Linked DNA regions of Homo sapiens: region 2 is linked to region 1. The links come from fine-mapping of genetic effects on gene expression. A gene starts in region 1. The other region holds a variant in brackets. All regions are shown on one strand. Distances are from middle to middle. Region 1 holds the start of CELA1 (chymotrypsin like elastase 1). Region 2 holds the start of BIN2 (bridging integrator 2).

The links.
Region 2: its variant is fine-mapped to the expression of CELA1 in lung (TOPMed, PIP 0.95).

The regions. Positions count from the first base shown.
Region 1 is chr12:51,336,050-51,352,018 of GRCh38, reverse strand. CELA1 (chymotrypsin like elastase 1) reads left to right here and starts at 5,340. Exons shown (of 8, transcript NM_001971.6): 1 at 5,340-5,396; 2 at 6,142-6,224; 3 at 8,166-8,266; 4 at 9,319-9,444; 5 at 10,639-10,775; 6 at 12,014-12,159. The coding sequence starts at 5,381. GALNT6 (polypeptide N-acetylgalactosaminyltransferase 6) reads left to right here. Exons shown (of 12, transcript NM_007210.4): 12 at 1-767.
Region 2 is chr12:51,321,266-51,334,202 of GRCh38, reverse strand. BIN2 (bridging integrator 2) reads left to right here and starts at 10,029. Exons shown (of 13, transcript NM_016293.4): 1 at 10,029-10,181. The coding sequence starts at 10,101. CELA1 (chymotrypsin like elastase 1) reads left to right here. Exons shown (of 8, transcript NM_001971.6): 7 at 4,370-4,519; 8 at 5,609-5,761. The coding sequence ends at 5,626. It overlaps LOC105369767 (a long non-coding RNA gene), which reads left to right and starts at 10,195. Exons shown (of 2, transcript XR_944957.3): 1 at 10,195-10,475; 2 at 11,000-11,835. RefSeq lists silencers at 6,804-7,098, 9,794-10,283 and an enhancer at 10,314-10,503. The variant G/C (reference allele first, on the strand shown) is at 7,998.

The sequences.
Region 1 (15,969 bases):
GAGCCTACAGAGGAGACATTGGCCAGCCAAAAGGAAAGGAGTGGCCAGGGTACGACCTGGAGTAGGGAAGGGAAAAAGTTCCCGGAAAGAAGAGAATTGGATGAGAGGTCTCAGTGGAAATAAAGGTTTTCTGGCATTGGTCAAGGAAACTCGCGTTGTGTTCTCTTACCTGTGTTGTCCCTTAGCTGAATCAGTTGATTTGGGCTATGAAGAACCACACACATCTGAAAAGTTCTGTTACAGCCACTGTCTCATGTCCCCAAACATTCTCTGGCCCTAAATCTAGCTTATGTATTGTGTCAAGCACGTGGAGACGTGAGACGTCAAACGAGGTCCTGTCCCCGTGGAACTCACACGCTAAATGTAAGCAAATCATAGCAAGCCTGGAGATGCTCCAAGAGGTGCTGGATGAGTTAGAAGGAGCAATTCCTTCCACTTAGGGAATCAGATAAGGCCTCACAAAGATGGCAATGTTTGACCTAAGACCTCGGAAGATGAGTCCTCAGATGGGAAGGGCTCAATAAGCAGAGTTGTTACACAGGCAGCAGCCTGGCAGGAGCAAAGCCACAGAGGACATGTGGCCCCAGTGGGTCTGAGAAACCCAGAGGACATTGGGGTGAGGGAGTGACTGGTGTAGAAGCTGGAAGATCAGAGTTACATCATGAATTTCAGGGGCCCTAGGCACTTTAGCCTTCACGGAGCTCTTGCTCCATTCAAAAAAAAATTAATGTTATGACTATGTTGGTATAAAGATGAATGTAATCCAGGCTGATTGGATTTACTTTATTTCTTCTGGTTTTAAAAGAAGCTAAAACATTTCTATGGGCCCTGGGCACTGCACCTGCTGTGCCTACTGGGTAACTCAGCCCCGTACAAGAGTGGGTTGGGGCCCAGTTGAGAGAGGCTTTGGTAGGTCCGGTAAGCCACAGGGAGTCGTGGAGCCTAACCCTAGCCTTATTCTTGGTTGCATTAAATATCCAAACGTGGATCCCAGTATCCCTCATACTGTCTATGGTATCACCCAACAGCTCCCCAGCCTAATCATATGATGTAGCCCAACCAAGGTGCCCAGCTGTGTCAAGAAGGTTCCACCTGCCCCCAAATAGCATAGCACTTCCCAGGCACAGTCAGCCAAGAGCTACTCGCAGGGAGTGGGAGATGCAGCAGGAGGGAGACACAGGCTGTGTCTAGAGAGGAGGTCTGGGTTCAGGGATGAGGGGAGGACTAGGGAAGGGAGGTGGTGGAGAAGAGGGAGAAGGCACTGATGGGAGTGGTGGGAAGGCTCAAGAAACTAGCTTTGGCCAGGCACCAATGTCTGACAACTGTAATCCCAGCACTTTCAGAAGCCGAGGCGGGCAGATCACTTGAGGTCAGGAGTTCAAGACCAGCCTGGCCAACATGGCGAAACCCAGTCTGTACTAAAAATACAAAAGTTAGCCAGACGTGGTGGCAGGCGTCTGTAATCCCAGCTACTCGGGAGGCTGAGGCACAAGAATCGCTTGAGCCTGGGAGGCAGAGGTTGCAGTGAGCTGAGATTGTGTTTCAGCCTGGGTGACCGAGTGAGACTCTGTCTCAAAAAAACAAACAAACAAACAAGAAACTAGCTTCTTCATGGCATTTTCCTTAGTCAAGCCTGGCCTGGCCCTAACAACACCCGTATTCTTCCTTAAAACCCACCCCTCTGACCACTCTCAGCTAACCTAAGGCCCCTACCTCTTAAAACCCTGCTGCTAGCCCTGTGCTACTATCTCCCGGCTCTAGGAGTCTCTCACTCTAGCATTAAAGAGCTAGGCCTCTCTGGGGATCTGTTTCCCACATGAAGAGTACTGGGGCCATTGCCACAAATAGCTAGATGTCCCAGAATTTATTCTTATTTTTAATTACCAAAGTAATACTGTGCCAGCCTGGCCAACATATCGAAACCCCGTCTTTACTAAAAATACAAAAATTAGCTGGGCGTGGTGGTGGGCACCTGTAATCCCAGCTACTCGCAAGGTTGAGGCAGGAGAATCGCTTGAACCTGGGAGGTGGAGGTTGCAGTGAGCCAAGATTGTGCCACTGCACTTCAGCCTGGGCAACACAGAGAGACTCCATTTTGTTTTGTTTTGTTTTTTTTAAAGTAATATTGTGGAGAAAAGTCAAGTGATCTAGAAAAGTGAGGTTTAAAAAAGTGAAATTTGCTACTTGGGAGGCTCAGGTGGGAGGATTGCTGGAGCCCAGAAAGTCAAGGCTGCAGTAATTTGTGATCGTGCCACTGCACACCAGCCTGGGTGACAGAGAGAGACTCTGTTTCAAAAAAATAATAAAGCTATATAGTATTCCATAGCAGGGTTAAACCCAATTTATTCAGTCTTCCTCTACTGATGAATACTTAGCTTTTTTCCAATTTTGCAACAAGCTTTGTGACAAACTATACTGTAACCCACAACCTCGAACATTTATTTTTCTGCCTGTTTTTTTGTTTTGTTTTGTTTTGAGACTGGGTCTTGTTTTGTCACCCAGGCTGGAGTGCAGTGACACAATCATGGCTCACTGCAGCCTCGACCTCCCATGCTCAAGGGATCCTCCCACCTCAGCCTCCCAAGTAATGGGACTACAGGCATGCGCCACCATGTTTTTTTCATGTTTTGTAGAGACAAGGTCTCATTATGTTGCCCAGGCTGATACCAAACTTCTGGCCTCAAGCAGTCCTCCCGCCTTGGCTTCCCAAATTGCTGAGATTACAAACATGAGCCACCATGCCCGACCAGTGTTTATCTCAAAAGAATTCATTCCTAGAATTGGTATGCAATGTCAGAAGAAATGCAATGCCTCAAAATTTAAGTCATTGTCTGGCTGGGCGGGTGGCTCATGCCTGCAATCCCAGTACTTGGGGAGGCTGAGGTGGGTGAATCACTTGAGCTCAGGAGTTTGAGACTAGCTTGGGCAACATGGTGAAACCTCGTCTCTACAAAAAATACAAAAATTAGCTGGGCATGGTGGCTGGCACCTGTAGTCCCAGCTACTTGAGGGGCTGAGGTGGGAGGATCGCTTGAGCCCAGAAGATGGAGGTTGCAGTGAGTTGAGATCATGCCACTGCACTCTAGCATGGGCAACAGAATGAGACCCTGTCTTAAAAAAAGAAAAAATTTAAGCCATTGTCTATGCCTAACCCTAAGAGTAAGATTTTTTTTTTTTTTTTTTTGAGATGGAGTCTTGCTCTGTTGCCCAGGCTGGAGTGCAGTGGCACAATCTCGGCTCACTGCAACCTCCACCTCCAGGGTTCAAGCAACTCTCCCTGCCACAGCTTCCCAAGGAGCTGGGATTACAGCTCCCAAGCACAGGGACTACACCACAACGCCTGGCTAATTTTTGTATTTTCAGTAGAGACGGGATTTCACCATGTTGGCCAGGCTGGTCTGGAACTCCTGACCTCAGGTGATCTGGCCCTGCTGTGATGTAAAGAGGTAACCTTCAGGAGGCCCTCAAGCCTCCTCTTGGACTCCTCATCCTGGGGCTAGAGGCCAGAGGAAGCAGGGAAGCGGGAGGAGAATGACCAAAGAGGCCCCGGGTTCCCTAGCGCAGCTCACCCCTCTTCCCTGAGTGTGCCAGAATGCTGGAGGGCAGGCTGGAGAGCAAGCTCTTCAGGTTATCTGAGCATCAAAGTGCAACTCCTCTGAACAGCTCTAGACACTGAAAAAGTGACTGTGCAGATTCCTTCAAAGAGCATTTTCCAGGTTTCTCCCACCCCTGCAGCCATGAAGCTTGGATTCTGGAGTGTTTAGGCAACAAAAGCCCTGGGTGGGCAGGTGATGGTCCTGCTTCTGTCTAGGTTCCTGGCTTCTCCCTGCCTAATTCCAAACCCCATGCGTTGCTACCATGACTGCTGCACCCACAGTCCTCTGCTCTGGAGCCTGCAGTGGCTCTGATCATTTTGTGGCCAACCCAAGGGTCCTCTGCCCACCTCAAGGCACATTGCAACTCTTTTCTCTCTCTATTTATTTATTTATTTATTTATTTATTTATTTATTTATTTATTTATTTTGAGACAGAGTCTTGCTCTGTCTCCAGGCTGGAGTGCAGCAACCTCCGCTTCCCAGGTTGAAGCGATTCTCCTGCCTCAGCCTCCAGATTAGCTGGGACTGCAGAAGCGCACCACCATGCCCAGCTAATTTTTGTATTTTGTTTTTGTTTTTTTTTAGATGGAGTCTCGCTCTGTCGCCCAGGTTGGAGTGCAGTGGCGCGATCTCGGCTCACTGCAAGCTCCGCCTCCCGGGCTCACGCCATTCTCCTGCCTGCGCCTCCCGAGGAGCTGGGACTACAGGCGCCTGCCACCACGCCCAGCTAATTTTTTGTATTTTTTTAGTAGAGACGGGGTTTCACTGTGTTAGCCAGAGTAGTCTCAATCTCCTGACCTCGTGATCCGCCCGCCTCCGACTCCCAAAGTGCTGGGATTACAGGCATGAGCCACCGCGCCCGGCCAATTTTTGTATTTTTAGTAGACGGGGTTTCGCCATGTTGGCCAGGATGGTCTCGATCTCTTGATCTTGTGATCCGCCCGCCTCAGCCTCCCAAAGTGCTGGGATTACAGGCGTAAACCACCGCGCCCGGCCGCAACTCCCTTCTCTCTCCTCTACGAACTGTGATGAACAAAGCCTTTCATCTCCTGCAGGAACCTCGGCTCCTACCCTCGTTCTCCCTCTGCCCTCCACCCTCCATCTACCCTCATAGCCCTCAGACTGTCTTCACATCCCAAGGATCCCCTCCTCTACCCTGCCTCATATTCTCCTCTGGGAGCCCCTTCTTGGCTCTCCATCTGAGAGGGCCCAAGCCTGTTTCTCAGTACTTTCCTCCCCCAGAATTATCTCCACTGCATCTATTTGGCTTTTGTGTCTGCATTTACACCTATGCCTGCATCCTGGGGGCATGTGCCATCTCCCTCTTTGGGCAGAGAGAGTTGCTGTGTCTTCCTTGCCCTTGCTAACCACTCCCCCCTCTTCCACTATCCCCCTGGCCTCCAGCTGCTAGTGCACAGGGCAAGTCTCTGCATTTATGGTGCCACTGAGGACAACGAGAGAGTGATGGATGACAAGGGGTGCTCCCTTAGAGAAAAACCAGCCCTGGTTCTCCATCTTATTTCTGAAAAAGAGTTTGTTGGATGCTTTTCAATTAAAAGCAGATGATTAATTCAGCCCTGGCCTTGTTCTGTCTTTGAATAACAGATACATTAGTTTACTTGAAAAGAAATATTTTCATTTGTATTTCCATGTCACTTGTGATTTTCCCTGCCTTGCACCCTCAGCCCTGCCAGTTGGCAAGAAGACAGTCAGCTTTGCTGCTAAGAGGAGTATAAAGAGGGCTTGGTCCAAGCAAGAAGGCAGTGGTCTACTCCATCGGCAACATGCTGGTCCTTTATGGTAAGTGGATATGGTCCAGTCGCAACCCTGGTCCTTTATGGTAAGTGGATCATGTGGCCTGAGGTCTATAGGGAGGGGGACTTGGGCAGGAAGGTCAGCAAATTTTCCCTAAGTCCAGGCCAGCACCCTGTCCCAGGGCAGGTGGGACGCTCTGCCTGCAGAGCGTCCTTTACTCTCCTGGAGGCCAAGATAGAAAAGGTCAGGGCCACTGGCTATTCAGGCCCCTCTGGGTGGCAGGTCCCTGGGCCACAAAGCAGAGAGAAGCCCCATCTGGTAGTGGGGTGGGTCCCTGGGCTTCCCCACCACCCCCATTGACAGGAGGACTTCCTCAGCAGGTGCCTGGCTGGGGTGTGCACTGCAGGCCCTGAACCCTGGAGAATCTTGCCAAAGCATTAGGGGGCTGGTGGGGGTCAAAGAGTGGGGGGGGGTCTCTTCAGGCCAAAGGGTGATCTTGAGCAAAGAGGAGACCACAAGGAGCCTCTGGGGCCTAGCCTGGTGGTTTGAGAGAGGTCCTTCATAGCATGCCGGAGTTCTGGGAACACCTGGGGGAAACAGAAGGCACCCAGGCACCCCTGTTTTCAAAAGGGGCTCAGAGAACTCACAGCTGGGCCCCTCATTCGTTAGAGAGGAACTGTGAATTTGCAGACAAGGCTAACATTCCTCAAAGCACAATCGCCACCCCCCACCCCTACCCCTGGCTGACCCCATGCTTAGTCATCACTCACTTTTCTTCTGCCCCACAAAGGACACAGCACCCAGGACCTTCCGGAAACCAATGCCCGCGTAGTCGGAGGGACTGAGGCCGGGAGGAATTCCTGGCCCTCTCAGGTGGGTGTTCCTTCCCAGCCCCAGACTTCCACCCAAATAAGAGCTCAGTGCATGACATAAGGTATCATGTGTATTTGTGCATGTCCCTATCAACAAGCAGCTCTCCAATTGTCTAGGTTCTCGATTTTAAAGATGGATGGGATCAGGCTTAGGTGGTTTTCTAAATGCAAAAGGCTTGGAGGAGGGGATTTATACACCAACCACAGTCCCTCTTCAAGGCACACACCCAAACACAAGATACATTTATATTCTCAGCGACAGCACTTGTGCCACGCAAGAAAGACTGGGTGCCAGACAGTCACCTTGGACTCCACATACCTTGAAACTCACACGCACACCACTCCACACTGTGTGTGTCACAATGCTTGCACGCATGTGCGCGCACACACACACACACACACGTACAGCATGCTGCTTAGTTGGCTATTTAGAGTTTCCACTTTGCTAACAGGGCAGCTGGGCCCTGATTTAAGTGATCTAAATATGTAAACCTGGCAAATTAACTGATGAAGATCCACACTTTGAGAAGATATCACTGCAATCAGAGTTTTAGCTTATAAAAGTCTGAGCCCCAGTTTTCAGGAGTAGAGCTATTACATAACATGAGGTGCTAGAAGAAGAGACATGAACTGATAAAAACAAACATCCTATTGGTATTTTTTTTTTTTTGAGATGGAGTTTTGCTCTCATTGCCCAGGCTAGAGTGCAATGGCATGATCTCGGCTCACTGCAAACTCTGCCTCCTGGGTTCAAGCAGTTCTCCTGCGTCAGCCTCCTGAGTAGCTGGGATTACAGGCGCCTGTCACCATGCCCAGCTAATTTTTGTATTTTTAGTAGAGACGGGGTTTCACCATGTTGGCCAGGCTGGTCTCAAACTCCTGACCTCAGGTGATCCACCCGCCTCAGCCTCCCAAAGTGCTGGGATTACAGGCATGAGCCACAGCGCCTGGCCTCCCATTGGTATTTCTAAGTAGTCCCTGAAGTGGGGAGACAGGAGATGTCTTGAAAACACTAAAGGTACAGCTCTGGAGACCTAAGCCTGTTGGGCTTAGGTGATGGAGCAAATCTTTGCCTATAGTTCCTCTTTTTTGGGGGAGGAGAGGGGGCGATGGAGTCTCGCTCTGTCACCAGGCTGCAGTGCAGTGACGCTATCTCAGCTCACTGTAACCTCCACCTCCTGGGTTCAAGCAATTCTCCTGCCTCAGCCTCCTGAGTAGCTGGGACTACAGGTGCATGCCACCACGCCCGACTAATTTTTGCATTTTTAGTAGAGATGGGGTTTCACCATGTTGGCCAGGATGGTCTTGATCTCCTGACCTGGTGATCCACCCGCCTTGGCCTCCCAATGTGCTAGGATCACAGGCGTGAGCCATGGTGCCTGGCCTATAGTTCCTCTTTAAGGGAGAACAGAGGTAGAAGGAGTTCCAAAAAAGGAGTTACAATGGGTTCTAGGTCCATTGCAACAACCTAGAGAGATAATGCCAAATACACTGTGTGCCTTTACTCCTCCATCCATGTACACAGCAAACATCACCAAGCGATGGAGCATCCCTTCCTGCTGGCCCCAGAAGCATCTACACACCCCTTATCAATGCCACACTCCAGGTGGCCACTACCAAGCAATCAGTAGCAATTGGCAGGTCAGATGAAACCTATTTGCCATCTCTAGCCTAGAAAGAGAATGTTTTGAAGGACAGCAGGACTTTAAGGAGGTGACATGTAGTTTGAGGCAAAGTCTTTTATATTTAATTATTTTTGACGTTGTAGAGGCGAGGTCTCACTATGTTGCCCAGGCTGGTCTCCAGCTCCTAGGCTCAACTGATCCTCCTGCCTCAGCCTTCCAAAGTTCTGGGATTACTGGCATGAGCCACTGCAACCGACCTGGGGCAAAACCATTTGAGAAACACCAACCTATCCCTTCTTTCTTTCCTCCCCATCTAGATTTCCCTCCAGTACCGGTCTGGAGGTTCCCGGTATCACACCTGTGGAGGGACCCTTATCAGACAGAACTGGGTGATGACAGCTGCTCACTGCGTGGATTAGTAAGAAAAACAAAGACAAGCTTTCCTGGGCCCCTGGAAGGGGAAGGGGCTGACCTTCTGAAAGAGGATATAATTTTGCCCTCTCTGGACAGCACTTCAGGGACTGGGCAGTGGCTCCTTTCCTGTTCAGGGCCTGCAGGGAGGTAGTATGGTGAAAGTACAAACTTTGGAGTCAGGGAGACTCAAATTCAAATCTTGCTCCACCAAATTCTAGCTATGTAGCCTTGGGCAACTATGCCCCCATTCTCCTATCTCTAAAGTGGGCTAAGAACATTTACTTTGTAGAAATGTTGTGAGGATTGAGTAAATATGTAAGTGCCTAGTCAATGTCTGACTGGTGACTATTTTTTCCTATTTGTCTTGGGCAATGGTTTTCACATTTGAGCATGTGTCAGAATCACCTGGAAGGCACAGATTGCTGGGCCCCATCCAGCAGAGTTTCTAATTTGGTAGGTCCAGGGTGAGGCCTGATAATTTGCATTTCTAACAAGTTTCCAGGTGATGCTCATGCTGCGGCCCAGGAACCACGCTTTAAGAACAACTAGCCTAAAAGTCTATGCTTCCTTCAAAATCTTGGTGGCTGAGAGCCATTATTTCATTTATGCGCACTACACCTCTCCCAGTTTACAAGATATTCAGCCTATGATGTTAAACCGAGAAAATCAAAGTGATGGTAGTTTTTTTCACTTCCACAAGTTAGTCAATTAGGGAATGAAAGAGCTTGTTACTTTCTCATTTTGGAGAGTCTTATATCCCTCCTCTGCCTAGACCAGATAAGATGGGTTCCTGTCCTAAAATAATAAACAAAACCTGGGCACGGTGGCTCACACCTGTAGTCCCAGCTACTAGGGAAGCTGCGGTGGGAGGATCACTTGAGCCTGGGAGTTTGAAGCCAGCCTGGGCAACACAGCAAAACCCCATCTCTAAAAAAAAAAAAAAATTTCCTAAATAATAATGATTAAAAAAAAAGATGGTTTTTCAACTTTTCTCTAAGTGGGGTAGAGAAGGTTTGAGTCCCCTGGATGACTCAGGGATTCCTTCTCTCACGCCAGCCAGAAGACTTTCCGCGTGGTGGCTGGAGACCATAACCTGAGCCAGAATGATGGCACTGAGCAGTACGTGAGTGTGCAGAAGATCGTGGTGCATCCATACTGGAACAGCGATAACGTGGCTGCCGGGTAGGAGCAAGTCCAAGCTGGCCCTGGGCTGGGCGGTGAGGCCTGACTAGCCAACAACTGGCTGCCTTCACCTGTTCTTTCAGAGGGCTAGAGGGATTGCATGGCCTGAAACCTGGTCCGTGGCTCCTGGCCTGGCCTTTAGTTAAGGAGCCCAGCTGAGCCTGAGAGAAGGCACCATGTCCTAGAGGGAGCAATGAGCTGGCTCATTCGTCCAGGAGGACTTTGAGAATTTAGGTTCTGAGCCAGGCACAGTGGCTCATGCCTATAATCCCAACACTTTGGGAAGCCAAGGCAGGCGGATCACCTGAGGTCAGGAGTTTGAGACCAGCCTGACCAATATGGTGAAACCCTGTCTGTACTAAAAATACAAAAAAAAAAAAATTAGCCAGGCATGGTGGCATGTGCCTGTAATCGCTTGATTACAGGAGAATCACTTGAACCCAGGAGGAAGAGGGTGCAGTGAGCTGAGATCGCGCCACTGCACTCCAGCCTGGGTGACAGAGTGAGACTCTGTCTCATAAGAAAAAGAGAACTGACGTTCTGGAGGGCTTGAGAGTCTTTGAAGACCTTTAGGATTTGTTGGATCCAGGCTGGTTTGCACAGTGGATTACCATTCTCTGCAGATTTTAATGTTCTGTTTCTATGGGGGGTTTTATCATTATTTATTATTCACATTATAGAATAGACTCCATCAGCAAAAGTAAATTTCCTAAAGTGAATCTTACACGGGAAAATTGCAAGTTGAGTTGTAAACTTCTGGAAAATAAATAATTAAAACGGTGGTCAATTCTATAGCATGTGCAGGTGGGGGTGGGTTCAAGGAATTGGGATATTCTACTGAGCTTGTAGAGCCACTCAGCCTTTTACATTTTTCTTGTTTGAGAACTCTGCCACCAAGATCATGCCACTCTGCTCCTTTCAGATTCCCCCATTCTCTACTTCCCGGGGTTGCAAAGGTCAGAGCTAGGCTGCAATACCAATGTCCCACCAGCAGATGCTGCTGTTAAACATAGAATGTTTACATGTTAAATTGTAATTGCTCTAGTTTGAGGCTTAGCAAGTGAGCCCCGTCCTTCTTCAAAGTCGTCACTTTCCAATTCCACGGGGATACAAATGCTTAGAGAGGGCCAGTGTATATGCTGACCTCAGGGAAGAGCTGATCCCATGAGTGAGCAGTCTCCTTTTCTCCTGCAGCTATGACATCGCCCTGCTGCGCCTGGCCCAGAGCGTTACCCTCAATAGCTATGTCCAGCTGGGTGTTCTGCCCCAGGAGGGAGCCATCCTGGCTAACAACAGTCCCTGCTACATCACAGGCTGGGGCAAGACCAAGAGTAAGTTGCCTACATTGGCACAATCCACCACGGGGATCTTGATTAGGTAGCTGAGCTTCTAAGACACCTTTTTCTGTGGTCCTAGGTGCTTATGGCCAGAGACCAGGAGCTAAAAGAACCATAGATACAATAACTGATGCATTATATCAAGCTAAGAATGGGCTGTGAAGTAGTTGACAGATTCATGGACTCTTAGAACAAAAAAAGACTTTATCAGAGAATTTTTTTTACCAGCCCCTCATTTTTAAAATTTATTTATTTATTTAGAGACAGGGTTTTGCTCTGTCACCCAGGCTGCAACCTCCACTTCCTGGGCTCAAGTGATCCTCCCACCTCAGCCTCCTGAGTAGCTGAGACTATAGGCATGTACCACCACACTCAGCTAATTTTTAAATTTTTTTGTAGAGATGGGATCTCGCTATATTGCCTAGGCTGGCCTCGAACTCCTGAGCTTAAGAAATCCTCCCACCTTGGCCTCCCAAAGTGCTGGGATTACAGGCATGTGCCACTGCAGCCAGCCAGCCCTTCATTTTATACATGAGGAAACCAAGGTCCAGAGAAATTAAGGATCCTTAGCTGAGTGTGGTGGCATGAGTCTGTAGTCCCAGGTACTCAGGAGGCTGAGGAAGGAGGATCGCTTAAGCCTGACCAACATGGAGAAACCCCATCTCTACTAAAAATACAAAATTAGCCAGGCATGGTGGTGCATGCCTTTAATCCCAGCTACTCGGCAGGCTGAGGCAGGAGAATCTCTTGAACCTGGGAGGCGGAGGTTGTGGTGAGCCGAGATTGCTCCATTGCACTCCAGCCTGGGCAACAAGAGTGAAACTCCATCTCAAAAAAAAAAAAAAAAAAGAAAGAAAGAAATGGAAACAAGCATGCACAATCCCATTTCTGCTCCATGGAGCTTGCAGGAGCAAACAGAACAGACAGATAAATCATCCACAAATAAGGCCATTCCATGGTGCAACTAAGTTATCCACGAGTGAAAAGAAGCAGGAGTAGGGTTGGTGGCTTGGAGCCTAGGTACAGTAAGCAAGGCTGCCTCCCTGAGGGAAGGGTCCTGTGCGGCCATATAAAGAGAGAAGACAGAGGATCCACCACATGCAACAGGGAGAGAGAAGGAGTTTGCCCTGAGCTCAGCTTTCACGAGAGTTTGGGAAGGTGTGGCAGGGGTGGAAGGTTTTTCTGCTGGACCACATCTGGAGCTGACTGCCAATGCCGTGTGTCCTGTTCAGCCAATGGGCAGCTGGCCCAGACCCTGCAGCAGGCTTACCTGCCCTCTGTGGACTACGCCATCTGCTCCAGCTCCTCCTACTGGGGCTCCACTGTGAAGAACACCATGGTGTGTGCTGGTGGAGATGGAGTTCGCTCTGGATGCCAGGTGAACATTTGCAGGGGGTCCCACCCCAGGTCCCGCCACTCTCTGCCTATCCCTCCACCCCTCTTCCTCACCTCCCTATTCGACACTTACTCTTAGTCCTACACAGACTCAATTTTCTACTCTGGCGTCTAAGTGAGAATGATCCTGTGCTGGTAATTCTACACATGCAGAAACTCAAAGTTGAAAGGAACCTTAAAATTGATCTTGCTCGATGCCCTCACTTCAAAGTTTGTACGTGGCCCAACATTTATATGTTGTTGTTGGTATATGTGTGTGTTCTTAGAATTTGTTACCTAGATTTTTTTTTTGAGATGGAGTTTTGCTCTTGTTGCCCAGACTGGAGTGCAATGGGACGATCTCGGCTCACTGCAACCTCCGCCTCTGGGTTCAAGCAATTCTCCTGCCTCAGCCTCCCAAGTAGCTGGGATTACAGGCATGCACCACCACGCCCGGCTAATTTTTTGTATTTTTAGTAGAGACAGGGTTTCTCCATGTTGCTCAGGCTGATCTCGAACTCCCGACCTCAGGTGATCCACCCGCCTTGGCCTCCCAAAGTGCTGGGACTACAGGCGTGAGCCACCATGCCCAGCCAAATTTGTTACCTAGATTTTTTAATGGCAGCGATGCAGCTGAGCCTGGACAGGTGGTTGTGATGCTGTATAAGCAGTACCCTGCTCCCTCTTACCTATCAGTCCTACTTCTCTTGCAGTTCCTCTACCACCATCCCTTTACCCCAGTGATATTTCTGGCAGTATGTACAGGTGAGTTTGATAGGGGAAAGTGCACAAAATAATTTTATAATAGCTTATATATAACAAATATAACCTTCCTCTATTTTGACAAGATCAATCAGCCATAAACTATCTTACAGATTTCTCTTTTTAAGCTTTTTTTATTATTATTATTTTAATATAGAGATGGGGTCTTGCTTTGTGGCCCAGGCTGGTCTCAGACTCCAGGGCTCAAGTGATCCTCCCACATTGGCCTCCCAAAGTGCTGGGAATACAGGCGTGAGCCACCATGCCCCACCCCAGATTTCTTAATGCAGTTTAACAACTATTCATTATATATCTACTATATGCCAGGCATTGTGCTAAGTGCTAAGGTTACAAAGATGGATCAAACAGTGTCAAGTAAAGAAACCAGAGGCACAGACATACAATAGAACATTGTAATACAATGTGGTTAAGTGTTAATAATCAGGATGTGCACAGGTGATATGGAAGCCCAAGGGTAGGTACCTACCTCTACCTACTGGGGCCAGAAAAGACTTTCCTTCCCCAAGAAACTAGAATTTGTAGTGGGTCCTGAGGGGCAAATAGGAATAGGCCAGGCAAAAAGGAGAAAAGACATTCAGAGGGAGGGAACGGCATGAATAAAGGCAGGGGGCCAAGAAACAACCTAGAGTACATACAGAATTATGGGGCATTCCCTAAGGCTAGAGTAGAGCAGCGGCTGGAGGTCCACAAGCCGAATCTAGCTCACTGCTTGTTTTATATGGCCCATGAGCTTAGAACAGTTATTACATTTTGATTTCTATATATATATATATATATGTATGCGTATGTGTATGTGTGTGTGTGTGTGTGTGTGTGTGTGTGTGTATGTTTTTTTTTTTTCCTGAGATGGAGTCTCACTCTGTCGCCCAGACTGGAGTGCAGTGGCGCAATCTCAGCTCACTGAAACCTCTGCCTCCCGGGTTCAAGCAATTCTTCTGCCTCAGCCTCCCGAGTAGCTGGGATTACAGGCACGCACCACCACATCTGCTAATTTTTGTATTTTTAGTAGAGACAGGATTTCACCATGTTTGCAAGGCTGGTCTCGAACTGGCTGGTCTCGGACTCCTGACCTCGTGATCCACCTGCCTCTGCCTCCCAAAGTGCTGGGATTACAGGCATGAGCCACCGCGCCTGGCCATATACATATATATATATATTTGTTTTTTTTTTGAGACAGCGTCTCACTCTGTTGCCCAGGCTGGAGTTCAGTTGTACCATCATGGTTCACTTGTAACCTCTGCCTCCCAGGCTCAAGTGATTTTCCCACCTCAGCCTCCCTAGTAGCTGGGACTACAGGCACATACCACCATACCCAGCTAATTTTTTGTATTTTTTGTAGAGACAGGGTTTCACCATGTTGCCCAGGCTGGAATTATTACATTTATTAATGGTAAGGAAAAAAAATCAGAATAATAATATGTCATGACACATGAAGAATATATAAAATTTCAGTGCCCATAAATAACATTTCACTGGAACACAGTCACAGTTGCTCATTTACAAACTGTTTATGGCTGCTTTTTTTTTTTTTTTTTTTTTTTGAAGAGATAAGGTCTTGCTCTGTCACTCAGGCTGGAGTGCAGTGGTGCCATCTTGGCTCACTGCAGCCTCAACTTCCTGGGCTCAAATGATCCTCCCACCTCAGCCTCCCAAGTAGCTAGGATCACAGGCACATGCCATCACACCCAGCTAATTTTGTTTTGTTTTTGGTAGTGACAAGGTTTCACTATGATGCCCAGGCTGGTCTTGAACTCCTGGCCTCAAGCAATCCTCCTGCCTTGGCCTCCTGGAGTGCTGGGATTATAGGCGTGAGGCACCATGCCCAGCCTATGGCTGCTTTTGTAGTACAACACAAAGTAGTTGCAATCAAGACGGTATGGCCTGCAAAGCCTGAAATATGTACTGTTTGGCCCTTAACAGAAGAGGTTTGCTGACCCGTGGGCTAGAATAGAAGCTACCACCATACTAGGAAATGTCAGGAGGTAAGACTAGAGAGGCAAGCAAGAGCTGTACAACTCAGGGCTTCAAATGCCAGGCTTGGGGACATGAACCTTATCTCTTGGGCATTGGGAAGCCATCAAAGACTTCTAAACAGGAGACTAGCACAACCAGATTCACCTTTTAGAATTGTTCTTTAGGCATGTTTTTGAAGAAGACAAGAGAGGCAGGGAGATTGCCTAGAGGGCTATTGCAATGATCTAAGCAAGAAATTTGAGGGCCTGAATTAAGGCAGTGGTGATAGGAACCGGAGGAGGGAAGGAGGAGGATCTGGAACAACAGCCAAGCATCTGGTTTAAGTGATTTGGGGGAGGGCACTGTTGCCCTGAGACAAGATTTACAGAGTTTGAGAGAGAAGATGATGAGTTTGGTTCTGGACAACCTTTGTCTGAGATCCCAGTGGGACATTCAGGTATAGCAACCAGTAAGAAATTTGGTGTTTTTTTTGTTTTGTTTGAGACGGAGTCTCCCTCTCTCACCCAGGCTGGAGTGCAGTAGCGCGATCTCAGCTCACTGCCCCCTCTGTCTCACGGGCTCAAGTGATTCTACTACCTCAGGTTCCTAAGTAGCCGGGATTACAGGCATGTGCCACAACACCTGGCTAATTTTTGTATTTTTAGTAGAGACGGGGTTTCCCCATGTTGGCCAGGCTAAGTCTCGAACTCCTGACCTCAGCCTCCCAAAGTGCTGGGATTACAGGCATGAGCCACCACGCCTGGCCAAGAAATTAGATAGAAAAAGTGGGGCCTGGGGGAAGAGCTGGGCTAGAGATACCTACTGAGAACAAATCAGATCCCATTCCAGGGAAAAACTGTTCAATGAGAAAAGAGCAGTGGGTTGGGAAAGAACTGTCAGAACATAAATACTTGAGTGTTTCAGGGATAAGTGGAGGATAAAGAAACCACTAGGATCTAAGAAAGGAGAAGTAGATGTAAGATAAAAACCTGGTAATAAGGATATTATGAAATCTCAGGAAGTACTTACAGATATCACATAATATACAATTCACCCAGAAGCCACAGTAGGTAAGAGC
Region 2 (12,937 bases), 16 kb after region 1:
CATGCCTGTGCTCTCCCATAAGCCCTGAGCTCTAAAAAAACGAGTACTTTTCTTCTGGCTGCCACTCCAAATTGACAGTTCTCAGAGGCAATTGTGTCCCCAGGTCCCTCCCCACTGGAGTTTCTCAAATAGTGTGTCTTCTGGGCTTTCACAGTTCTGGGTCTCCAACCCTTCTCCTCAGAATGGATTCACTTAGAACCTCCCATTTCAATCAACCCATCCCCACTGATTTCTTTTCCAACTCTTCCTTCTGCTCTAAAATCCTCAGCCACACCCTCCCTCTCTCCTGAGGCTTGGTCTCTTTTCGGGTCAATTAGCACAAGACAATAGTATTATATACAATTCATTTATCTATCATTCCTCTAGCCCCTGAAATACTCTCAAATCCCTGATAGAATTTTGGTGGAAGAGATTGTTTTGTTTTGAGTACAATAATCTAAAGAAAACATCGTTTCCTAAATAGCAGTTAGGGTGGAGTACAGGTAGTTCCACTTTAAAGTAATTACCCTTGACTGGGCGTGGTGGCTCATGCCTATAATCCCAGCACTTTGGGAGGCTGAGGTGGGAGGATCACTTAAACTCAGGAGTTAGAGATTAGCCTCAGCAACATAGGGAGACCCTGTCTCTGCAAAAATTTAAAAAATTAGCCGGGCGAGGTGGCGCACACTGTGGTCCCAGCTACTTGGAATACTGAAGTGGGAGGACTGCTTGAGCCCAGGAGATTGGGACTGTGGTGAGCTATGATCATACCACTGCACTCCAGCCTGGGCAGAGGCTCTGTCTTAAAAAAAAAAAAACAAAAAAAAAACAGTCGGGCTCAGTGGCTCATGTCTGTAATCCCAGCACTTTGGGAGGCCACAGTGGGTGGATCACCTGAGGTCAGGAGTTCAAGACCAGCCTGACCAACATAGTGAAACTCCATCTCTACTAAAAATGCAAAATTAGCCAGGTGTGGTGGTTTATGCCTGTAATCCCAGCTACTTGGGAGGCTGAGGCAGGAGAACTGCTTGAACCTAGGAGGCGGAAGTGGCAGTGAGCTGAGATCATGCCATTACACTCCAGCCTGGGCAACAAGAGCGAAACTCAGTCTCAAAAAAAAAAAAAAATTAACGGGGAGTGGGGCTACACATCTATACTCCCAGCTACTCAGGCGGCTGAGGCAGGAGAATCACCTGAACCTGGGAGGTGGTGGTTGCAGTGAGCCGAAATGGCACTACTGCACTCCAGCCTGGACGACAGAGCGAGACTCCATCTCAAAACAAACACACACAGAATTATCCCAGTTTGAAATTTTGGTCTCTTTCCCTAGTTTTTTTTAAGTTTTACTTTTGTTTGTTTGTTTTTGAGACAGAGTCTTGCTCTGTTGCCCAGGCTGGAGTACGGTAGCGTGATCTCAGCTCACTGCAACCTCCTCCTCCTGGGTTCTTGTGCCTCAGCCTCCTCAGTAGCTGGGATGACAGGCATGAGCCACCATACCTGGCTAATTTTTTTTGTATTTTTAGTAGAGTCGGGGTTTCGCTATGTTGGCCAGGCTGGTCTCAAACTCCTGGCGTCACGTGATCCACCCACCTCGGCTTCCCAAAGTGCTGGGATTACAGGTGTAAGCCACCACACCTGGCCCCAAGTTTTACTTTTTATTGAAGCTTAAATTGGCAAATAAGATTATGGGGCTCAATAATGGAAAAGAATAGCTACTCTAGTTCTCCCACCCCATGGGAGGCCACTTTCAACTCTTCAGCTGATTCTTTTGGTGTCTACATCTTTAAAATTATATACTTACACTGCTATTTTTGTGTTGACATTATGGCAGATGTGATTCTCTTTATTTTTTATATATACATACCTGCCCTCCAAGCATGACATTTTCTGATCACCATCTCAACCTCTCAAAATATTTTGGTTAGATCAACATTCGGCATTTACTATGATTATATAAAATGCTATTTACAACAAAATCATGTAATATATTCTAGGTTTACTTTTCATTTGCTGCATAACTTTTTTTTTTTTTTTTTAAAGAGACAGGATCTTACTCTGTCACCCAGGCTGGAGTGCAGTAGCACAATCACAGCTCACTGCAGCCTTGAATTTCTGGGCTCAAGAAATCCTCCCACCTCAATCTCCTGAGTAGCCAGGACTACAGGCACATGCCACCACACTCAGCTGATTTTTTAAAATTTTAATAGAGATGGGGGTCTCGGTTTGTACCCCAGGCTGGTCTCAAACTCCTGGCTTTAGCTTAAGCAGTCCTCCTGCCTCAGCCTCCCAAAGTGCTGGGATTACAGTCATAAACCACCAAGGTCAGCCCTTGCTGCACAACTTTTTCAATTTTTTCAATGTCTGTTAAAAATTGTCTTTTTCATTTGCTTAATATAGTCAGTTTTTCATTAATTCAACCCCACACACTCCACTAATTTGTTAAGTGACCTATATCATCTTCTCTTGACCTAGTGGTCTATGTGGATCTATTTGCATTCGTTGTGAGGGATACTTAATGGGTGGGTTTTCCCGGAAACTCCAGACCTTTGATCCAGAAAATGTTGTTTATTTGTTGATTTCCTCCCACTCTATTTTCACTTTTCTCTTTCTAGAATTTCTGTTATTCACATGTTTGCCTCCTAAGCTGGTCCTCTTGTTTTCTCTATATCTTGTTTGTTCTATCTTATGTTCCAACTCTTCCAGTCTCTCATTTCTAAATCTATCAAATCTGTAATTTCCAAAGGCTCTTTTTGCTGTCTGAATGTTGTTTAGTAGTATGCCGTTCTTGTATCATGGATGCATATTAGTCATGTTTTTTGTTTGTGTGTTTGTTTTGAGACGGAGTCTCGCTCTGTCGCCCAGGCTGAAGTGCAGTGGTGCAATCTCAGCTCACTACAACCTCCAGCTCCTGGGTTCAAGCGATTCTCCTGCCTCAGCCTCCTGAGTAACTGGGATTACAGGCATGTACCACCACGCCCGGCTAATTTTTGTATTTTTAATAGAGTTTTAGGGGTTTCACTGTGTTGGCCTAGTCTTGAACTCCTGACCTCAGGTGATCCGCCCGCCTCAGCCTCCCAAAGTGCTGGGATTACAGGTGTGGAGCCACCATGCCCAGCCTATTAGTTATGGTTTTATTGCTTGTTTTCTTCTCCCTGCATAGTCTTGGTTGCCTTCATTTTTTTATTTAGCTCCTTGTTTCTTTGTTTCAATCTTTATTTTTATATTAGATGAATTCCTTTTTTTTTTTTTTTTTTGAGACAGAGTCTCACTCTGTCGCCCAGGCTGGAGCCCAGTGGCGCCATCTTGGCTCACTGCAAGCTCTGCCTCCCGGGTTCACGCCATTCTCCTGCCTCAGCCTCCCGAGTAGCTGGGACTACAGGCGCCCACCACCACGCCCGGCTAATTTTTTGTATTTTTAGTAGAGATGGGGTTTCACCGTGTTAGCCAGGATGGTCTCGATCTCCTGACCTCGTGATCCGCCCGCCTCAGCCTCCCAAAGTGCTGGGATTACAGGCATGAGTCACTGGGCCCGGCTAGAGGCATTCTTTAGATGTTTAGTGATCCTTAACCATCTGCTTTTATTTCAGAGTGGGGGTGGTATTTTTACCCAGAGTGGGTGGGCTGATTGGTAGCTCTGAGCCTTAGATGGGGTTCATCAATAGTGGATTCTCTGTCAGGTGATCTGGCTAGGCCATTTTAGTGGAGGACCTCCAATGTCAGTATCTTTAGGTCTTTCCTCTTGGACTGTTCAGTTTTTCCAGAGAAGTATCTTCCCATTTTATGTGTGGCATTATGGACCTGGCATTCTAGAAGCTGAGTAAGAAGGGAGGCAAGATCATATTCCATAAACCCAGGTTCCCAGTTGAGCATGTGACCTAATACATCACTTTCCTCTTCATTCCAGTTTAGTTTAGCATGTTTTGACTACCAAGTCTAAATACTTGGTCTAATTATACCCATTGGTCTAAATGCTGGGGATAAAGAAATTATTAGAATGCCCTATTTTTGCCACCCCAGGTTCAATTTAAGCCAATAAAAGCGATTGAACTTTAGATATTTAAAGTTCTATGCTAGCATTGTGGAGAGGAAAGATCTTGGTAAGAGTTTTTGTCTCAGGAAGCTCATAGACATGTGTGAGGAGGTACAAACAAATTATGAAACCAAAATACAAGGCAGAACATGAAATAAGTGCAGCAAAAGAGAAGAAGTATTGTGGTTGTTTAGAAAGGAAGAAGAGATTCATTTTGATTGTGGGGACATGAAGGAGGTGGAGATTTGCATTGGAGCTTTAAAACCGTACAGAATTTCACAACCAGAGACGGGGGCGGGGGGAGTGCAAGCAAAAGCCCGAAGATCTGGAGTTTTAGGATTCTGTTTCTCCTCCCTGCAGGGTGACTCTGGGGGCCCCCTCCATTGCTTGGTGAATGGCAAGTATTCTGTCCATGGAGTGACCAGCTTTGTGTCCAGCCGGGGCTGTAATGTCTCCAGGAAGCCTACAGTCTTCACCCAGGTCTCTGCTTACATCTCCTGGATAAATAATGTGAGTCCTCTCAAATGATGGGTTGAAATGGGGTCACCTGGAGACCTACGCACTGGCTGGGTTGGGGAACAAACGTTGGATGGACTGGGCAAGCCGTCATCTTCCTTACCACATTCATGTGTTTACTCCCTTCCCTTCCTTCCACGGTGTACTTTCCTTCAATAAGGCTGCCATCCTGAATTCCCTCCCCTCCACATACCCACAGAGCAGACTTCACTGTATTGTTTATTGCTTAGGGTAAGACAGTGGCAACATCAAATCTGAATCAGGGACATATCAGTGCCTTCCTAAGTCAAAGCCCAGGGAAAAACAGGTTCAGAAAGGCCTGCGTACTCCTAGGCAAGGGAAGGAGGCACCGACTTCCTCTCCCACAACGTCTTTCTAAGGACATTATGATAATTTGCTCTAACTTTTTTTTTTTTTTTTTTTTGAGACAGAGTCTCACTGTGTCACCCAGGCTGGAGTGCAGTGGCTTGATCTCGACTCACTGCAGCCTCTGCCTCCTGGGTTCAAGTGATTCTCCTGCTTCAGCCTCCCAAGTAGTTGGGATTATAGGCATGCACCACCAAACCTGGTAAATTTTTTTTGTATTTTTAGTAGAGATCGGGTTTCACCATGTTGGTCAGGCTGGTCTTGAACTCCTGACCTCAAGTGATCCACCTGCCACCCAAAGTGCTGGGATTACAGGCATGAGCCACAGCGCCCGGCCTGCTCTAATTTTTGACAGGTTTTACCACCTTAAATAATGCTTGAGAGTTAGGTGAGGCTCTGCCTACACTGACCTGGTGGAAAGGCCACACAACACATTTCACTGTGCCCTCCACCCTTCAAACACATTCTGGAGCCTTGTGTATTAATCTTGGCTCACGGCCATTTCAAGGTCTGTCTTTGCCACTGTATTCTGGGTATGTACCTATAACACTGAGCTGTCCTATCACAGTTGAGGCTGACTTCCTGCCTCCCTGTCCCCACACCCTGTCAACTTCCCATAAACCCAGTACAAAACCATACTTAACTGGGAGCCCTGAGGAAACAAGAAAGGAGGTAGGCAGGAGTTACTGACTGTGGACATAACTGTCTTTCCTTCAGGTCATCGCCTCCAACTGAACATTTTCCTGAGTCCAACGACCTTCCCAAAATGGTTCTTAGATCTGCAGTAGGACTTGCGATCAAAAAGTAAAACACATTCTGAAAGACTATTGAGCCATTGATAGAAAAGCAAATAAAACTAGATATACATTATCATACTGTGTCTATTTGTAATTAAGCCCTCCAGAGCAGGGGTCCCTATGCCTGATGATCTGTCACTGTCTCCCATCACCCCCAGACAGGACCGTCTAGTTGCAGGAAAACAAGCTCAGGGATCCCACTGATTCTACATTATGGTGAGTTGTATAATTAGTTCACTATATATTACAGTGTAATAATAATAGAAATGTAGTACACAATAAATGTAATGCCCTTGAATCATCTCGAAACCATCCCCCACCCCGGTTCGTGGAAAATTGTCTTCCACGAAACGGGTCCCTGGTGCCAAAAAGGTTGGGGACCACTGATTTAGAAGAAATGCAGTTATAGGATCCAAGTTGGATTTCACCACATCTGCAGGCTGGGTCTTCCCTTTGCTGCTACCTCTACCAGTCCACAACACAAACCCAGTGGGAGTAGCTTTATGTTATCCATTTTGGGTTACTTTAGGATCTATGTATCCACTAATCTGTCCATCTGCCCTATTCCTGTGGATATTTGCTATATTCGAAGGCACAGAGCTACTTGGGAGGCTGAGGCAGGAGAATCGCTTGAACCCGGGAGGTGGAGGTTGCAATGAGCCAAGATTGCACCGTTGCACTCCATCCTGGGCAACAAGAGCGAAAGACCATCTCAAAAAAAAAAAAAAAAAAAAAAGGTTCCCGAGTGGGCTGGGTACGGTGGCTCACGCCTGTAATCCCAGCACTTTGGGAGGCCGAGGTGGGTGGATAACGAGGTCAGGAATTCGAGACTAGCCTGGCCAAGATGGTGAATCCTCGTGTCTACTAAAAATACAAAAATTAGCTGGGCACAGTGGCAGGCGCCTGGAATCCCAGCTACTCAAGAGGCTGAGGCAGGAAAACTACTTGAACCCAGGAGGTGGAGGTTGCAGTGAGCTGAGATCGTGCCACTGCACTCTAGCCTGGGCAACAAAGCAAGACTCCGTCTCAAAACAAACAAACAAAAAACTTCCTGAGTGACTGAATGTGCCCTGTCTTTCCCAGGTATACTGTGGGTTCATCCTTCTTTTGTTTCCCCCTTTAGTGCCTAAAACGAACGCCCACTCCAAGTTTCTGGGTGATGGCAACTACTAGGATACACCAGAGATAGAAGTATAAGATTAGGAGGCAGGGCAGATACCAGCAGACTAAGAAAGTGACAAATTAGAAAGGAGACTGGAGAAAATCGCTTGGGCCTGGGAGGTGGAGGCCGCAGTGAGCCAAGATTGCGCCACTGCATTCCAGCCTGGGCAATGAAGTGAGATTCTGTCTCAAAAAAAAAAAAAAACAACAATGGAGACTGGAGAGCTAAGAATAGAAAAAAGGAGAGAAGAGAAGATACTAAACAAAGAAACGAAAGGGTTGAGGGGAAGAGGCAGAACAGAAAGGAAGAGGCAACAACAACATAGGGCCTCAAGCTAAGTGTGAATCAGCACTTTAAGGCTGGGACTAAAATTAGGCAACCGGATCCAGGGTTCTATAAACCACAGAGAACTGGGAAACTGATAATTCTGCTGTATCCTGGCCAGGGCTCAGTCTGTTAGAGTGGCCTATGAGAAAGCAAAGGGGGAACTGAAAGGGGAAGGCTAAAAAGGATGAGAAGCAGCTTTTCATGTCAATCACTTAAGACCAGACAAGAGGGACTAGGGTATTAAACATTACAGAAGGAGAAACTGGCTGAGACAGACCCTGGAATTGACAGGCTCAGCAGAGGCCTCTAGAACACTCCATGTGCTATAAGAGGCTGAGTCTGTTCCCATCCCAGTTCCACCACTGAGGAGCTGGGTGGCTGTGGTCAAGTCATCAGCCCTTTCTGTGACTCAATTTCCCTATCTAATTAACTTCTAAGGGTTGTTTCTTCTCTAACACTACATGATTTGGTGACCATCAATTTCAGTTTGCAAGATATTGGCACTAAACAGAGTTTCTTAGGAGACAGTGGCTGGGTTGCATTGCTGAGGATGCCATGTAGTCCTGGCAGGGACACAGGTACTGGCCTCCTTCTGCCAGTGACACACCTGTTAGCATTGCCATCTACTCTCAGTGTTCCCGCAGTACTGCTATTCTCCATGCTTCTCCCCACTTCTCCCCATCCAATATCAAGTCCTTCTATTTTCATCACCCTGCCTCTTCCAGGGCATCACCAAAGCTAACATCCAGAATAAACCCTAATCGCCTGGCAGGGCAAGGTGGTTCACACCTGTAATCCCAGCCCTTTGGGAGGCTGAGGC[G/C]GGTGGATTGCTTGAGCTCAAGAGTTCCAGATCAGCCTGGGTAGCCAGGAGTGGTGGCATGCACGCACCTTAGTCCCAGCTACTCAGGAGGCTGAGGTGAGACCATCACTTGGGCCTGGGAGGTAGAGGCTGCAGTGAGCCCTGATGGCACTGCTGCACTCCAGCCTGGCAACAAAGCAAGACCCTGTCTCCAAACAAACAAACAAACAAACAAACCCTAATCACCTATTCCCAGAAAATTTTGTATCCATCTCTACAAATAAATTAAGCACATTACATTAGAATCACCTGATTACCCACCTATCTCCACTTCCAGACTTTAAGCATCTTTATTTATGTACTTATTTATTAATACTTATTCTTTATTGGTTGAGAAAGGGCCTCACGCTTTGCCCAGGCTGGAATGCAGTGGCACCATCAGGGCTCACTGCAGCCTCCACCTCCCTTGGCTCGGGTGATCCTCCCACCTCAGCCTCCCTGATAGCTGGGACTACAGGTGTGTGCCACCACGCCCAATTAATTTTTGTATTTTTAGCAGAGAGAAGGTCTTGCTATGTTGCGCAGGCTAGTCTCAAACTCCTGGGCTCAAGCAATCTGCCTGCCTCAGCCTCCTAAAGTGTTGGGATTACAGGTGTGAGCCGTGGTGCCCGGCCAGACTTCATTAAGCATCTTAAGGTCAGGGACTGCATTTTATTCATCCTTGTTTCAGAACACCCAGCAATGCCTGGTACACAGTTGACCTTGAGTGCAGTAATGATTGTTTTGGAGAAAGAAGAGGAACACAGTAGCATACAAGGGCCTCTAATTTTGTGTCAGGCCCTATCTTCCCCCTCCACTCCTTAGGAAGTGTTATTTTGACCTTCTTCCCTGCCTTGAGGAAATTTTAACCTGCACTGTAAAATCTGAGTACGTGGTTCCTCCACACCTAGTGTCCTAATCTCAAGCTATCCCCTCAAACAGGTCAGGGAGGAATTTTTTGGAGAACTTCTCCCTAAAGAAACAATAGTTGTCATCTCAACAGCCGCACCCCAATTTGCACAATCTGTGTCTGTGTTCACATTCTGCCTCCATCCAGTACACTGTACTCCAACTAGAAAAACTTGCTCCTCATGCTCAGCACGGGCGTCCATACTATCCTCCTCAGCCTTTTTTCAATGTGATCATTCTCTTGCCTAAGAACCAGCCCCCTACCCTGTTTCTATCTCCAGCTTAGTTGTTCCTCATTTATTTATTTATTTATTTATTTATTTATTTATTTATTTGAGACGAACTGTCGCTCTGTCGCCCAGGCTGGAATGCAGTGGCGCGATTTCGGCTCACTGCAACCTCTGCCTCCCGGGTTCAAACAATTCTCCTGCGTCATCCTCTCGAGTAGCTGGGACTGCAGGCGTGCGCCACCACACCCAGCTAATTTTTGTATTTTTAGTAGCGACGCGGTTTCACCGTATTGGTCAGGCTGATCTCCTAACCTCAGGCGATCCACCCGCCTCGGCCTCCCAAAGTGCTAGGATTACAGGCGTGAGCCACCGCGCCCGGCCTGTTTCTCTCTTTCAAGCCCGGCTCGGGTGTCCTGCCTGCTTTCTGCACTCTATCCCTACCAGTTCCAGGCTTAGAGCCTACCTGGAGCAAGAAACGCAGTGTACATGGCGGCTTCGCATGCATACTCAGAGAACCTAAACGTGTTTTCGATATGGTAGGTCCTCTCGCTGAGTGGAACCCACATCATTTTCTACCCTGCGGTGGCAGTTGCTTTGCAGTGCTCAGCGTGATGGGAACTGGCTTTCCGGAGCGAGTGAGTGTGGGCCCACCACTGAGGACCTGGTTCAGTGAGGCCGAGGTTTCGGGCAGGGGTTGGAGCTCGGAAGCTGGCCTCGAGCGAGCGCTGCCTGAGGGTAGGCCCCGGGCCCGCCCCTCCGAGCCGGCCTGCTCCAGCTGACAGTGGTGGGCTGAGGGGCGGGCCTCAGGGCTGGCCAGGGGCGGCCTGAGGTGGCTCAGGGCTGGGGCCGGATGCGAGGCATGCCGGGAGCCCGCACTTCCTCCTCGGGGGCCTCAGAAAACCACAGGGCGCGGGGCCAGGGCGGCGGCCCCCAGGGAGTTGGCAGGATGGCAGAGGGCAAGGCAGGCGGCGCGGCCGGCCTCTTCGCCAAGCAGGTGCAGAAGAAGTTTAGCAGGGCCCAGGAGAAGGTAGGTGGCCGGGCCTCGCTGTCTGTCTGGCCCACAGGGAGCCGAGGCCGAGGCCGAGCCCGGCCGGGCAGGAGGGGCGGGCAGGGTGCTCAGGGGCCCCGAAGGGTCTGGGCTGACGAGAAGGGTCTCCCGCTCTCCCAGGGAAACGGGAGCGAGGAGTGGGCTTCCATGAAAACTGGCAGATTGGAGAGAGGTCGGAGACCGCCACCCGATCTTGGGCAAGGATAAGGGAAGCTGGGGAGACAACAGTCTCTGGGCAGAACCTTCGACAACCCTCAGGCTGACCCAGAAAAGGTGAAAGAAAGGAAGTGATGGTGGTGGCCACCTTTGTATCAAATTTTGTGCTAGCAATCCAAAATTGGTATTTTACAGATGATGAAATTGGAGGGTAATTTTCCATAGAGGGCAATTTCCCCAAAAACAGCGATGCAGCGGATGCCAGCAGGCACCCCCCACCAAAGGCTTAGAATAATCCTGCATAGTTCTCCCCCTACCTGACCCTGCCTGGCCTCTGGGTGGTGTTTCAGCTGACGTAAGCAGGAGCCCAAATCTGCTTCTTCTACCCTCCCTTTGGCGTTGGGGAGTACACCTCCCAGGGTGATGAACCACATCTGTGTTCAGAGTGTGTCCTTGGTTAGTGTCAGGTAGCCCTGCTCCAGCACTGGCACTTAGGTGGGCTGCCCATCTATTACTTGCTTGGCAATCTAAATTGTGGGGACATTCTCTACACATTTTGATGGCATTTTTGTTTCTACCTGTACAGAATATTTTCTTTGCTTCTAACCTGAGCCTCTGCTCTCCACCTACCAACCCTCTAGTAGACAAGGCGGTTTGGGAAGACATGTCAGCCAGAAGAAAGAGCGAGGGAAGAAAGACAAGAAGGACCTGAGATAGAGTTTCGGTTTTCCTTTTTTTCTCTCTCTCTTTATTAAGCCCAACCTGCCTTCTACAACGGAGAAGTTTTGGTTTTCTAAGAGCTGATGGACTTAGAAGCATTTGGATGAACAGCTCTGCTTACCAACTGAAATATCCCTATTATCTTCTAAAAGTGGAGCACTGCTTTGAGCCCTGGGAAGGCTTAAAGGCAACCAGCTCTCCCGAGTTGATTTATCAGCAGAAAACTGATGGAATGTAGATGTAGCTCCTGACTTTAAGAGACCACAATGGAAGGGAGGTTATTTTCTATCATTTGAGGTCATGTGAAAGAGAGGAGGAAAAGGGAAAGAGTTCGTGTAGCCAGACTTCGTTACTTCACTTACCCTAACTTCACCTTGATCCTAGTTTCAGCCTCTCTGAAGACTTACAAATCTGGTAGACCCGAGAGCAGGGCCTATGGGAAGGTCTAGCTCGAAACAGTGTGGGCGAGCAGGAGGTACTGGAGAGAAGGCCACACTGTGGTTGAAAAAAAAAAAAACCCTAAAAGACAAAACACTCATGAATGATAGTAATTTTAAAAAGACATACCAGCCAGGCACAGTGGCTCACTCCTGTAATCCCAGCACTTTGGGAGGCCAAGGTGGGAGGACTGCTTGAGCCCAGGAGATCAAGACTGCAGTGAGCAGTGATCACACCACACCACACTCAAGCAGAGGGAGACTCTGTCTCAAAAAATAAAAATAAATACATAAAAATAAAAGACATACAATTGATTGTATTTCACTCTTGCATCTTCTGTCTTCATCTAGCCTCTCGTCAACACTAAAACCTTGCTTTGGGCTTTCACTCCTTTGTAAGCATAGACTCCAAACCTTGGCTAAATAATGTCCTGCTCTGGGCTTCAGATCTTGCACCTGTAAAATGAGAGGGTTGATGTTCTTGATGAAACTCAATATGGTAAGAACACTAAATTGAAAAGCTGTCACATTAGACTCAGAGTCAAATACTTCCCAAAGACAGAACCAGTCTCTCAGGTTCTTCTGGCCTGAACCCTGAGGAAGTAGAGAAAGAGGAGCAAACTCAAATCTGCCATGAGGAATTCCCAGCTGATGAAGAAAACAAGATATTCTGAACCTAGACTAGACAAAAGGGTAGGCAAAGGTTGAACTTCGATAAGGTGGGAATGGCCTGGGATGCCGGAAGGGAGCTCAGCTCCGTCAGCCTGAAGCCAGTCCTTGAGTCTTGGGAAGTTATTGAGACCAAGATAAAGAGGGAGAAATTTGCACTAAAATGAAAGAATTCCTTGCAACACTTTTTGCTTTTTCTGCAAGCAGTTGGATGTAATCTTCTGAGTAATAAGTAATAGCTAATGTGTCAAATAGTGAAATGTGTCAAATATCAAGCGCCTATTATGGACCAGAGACAGGGATATAAGAAAGTGATTATCAGCGGGGTGCAGTGGCTCACGCCTGTAATCCCAGCACTTTGGGAGGCCCAGGCAGGTGGATCTCCTGAGGTCGGGAGTTCGAGACCAGCCTGACCAACATGGAGAAACCCCGTCTCTACTAAAAATACAAAATCAGCCGGGTGTGGTGGCGCATGCCTGTAATCCCAGCTACTCAGGAGGCTGAGGCAGGAGAATCGCTTGAACCTGGGAGGCGGAGGTTGCCGTGAGCCGAGATCGCGCCATTGCACTCCAACTTGTGCAACAAGAGCAAAACTCTGTCTCAAAAAAAAAAAAGACAAAGTGATTCTCTCTCCCTTTATGGAGCCAACATTCTACCGATGTCATCTCCCTTCATCTATTCAACACTTTAAGCAGGTTATTAGCATCTCTGTTTTAGAAATAAGGAAACAAGGCTCAAAAGAGATTGGTAGGT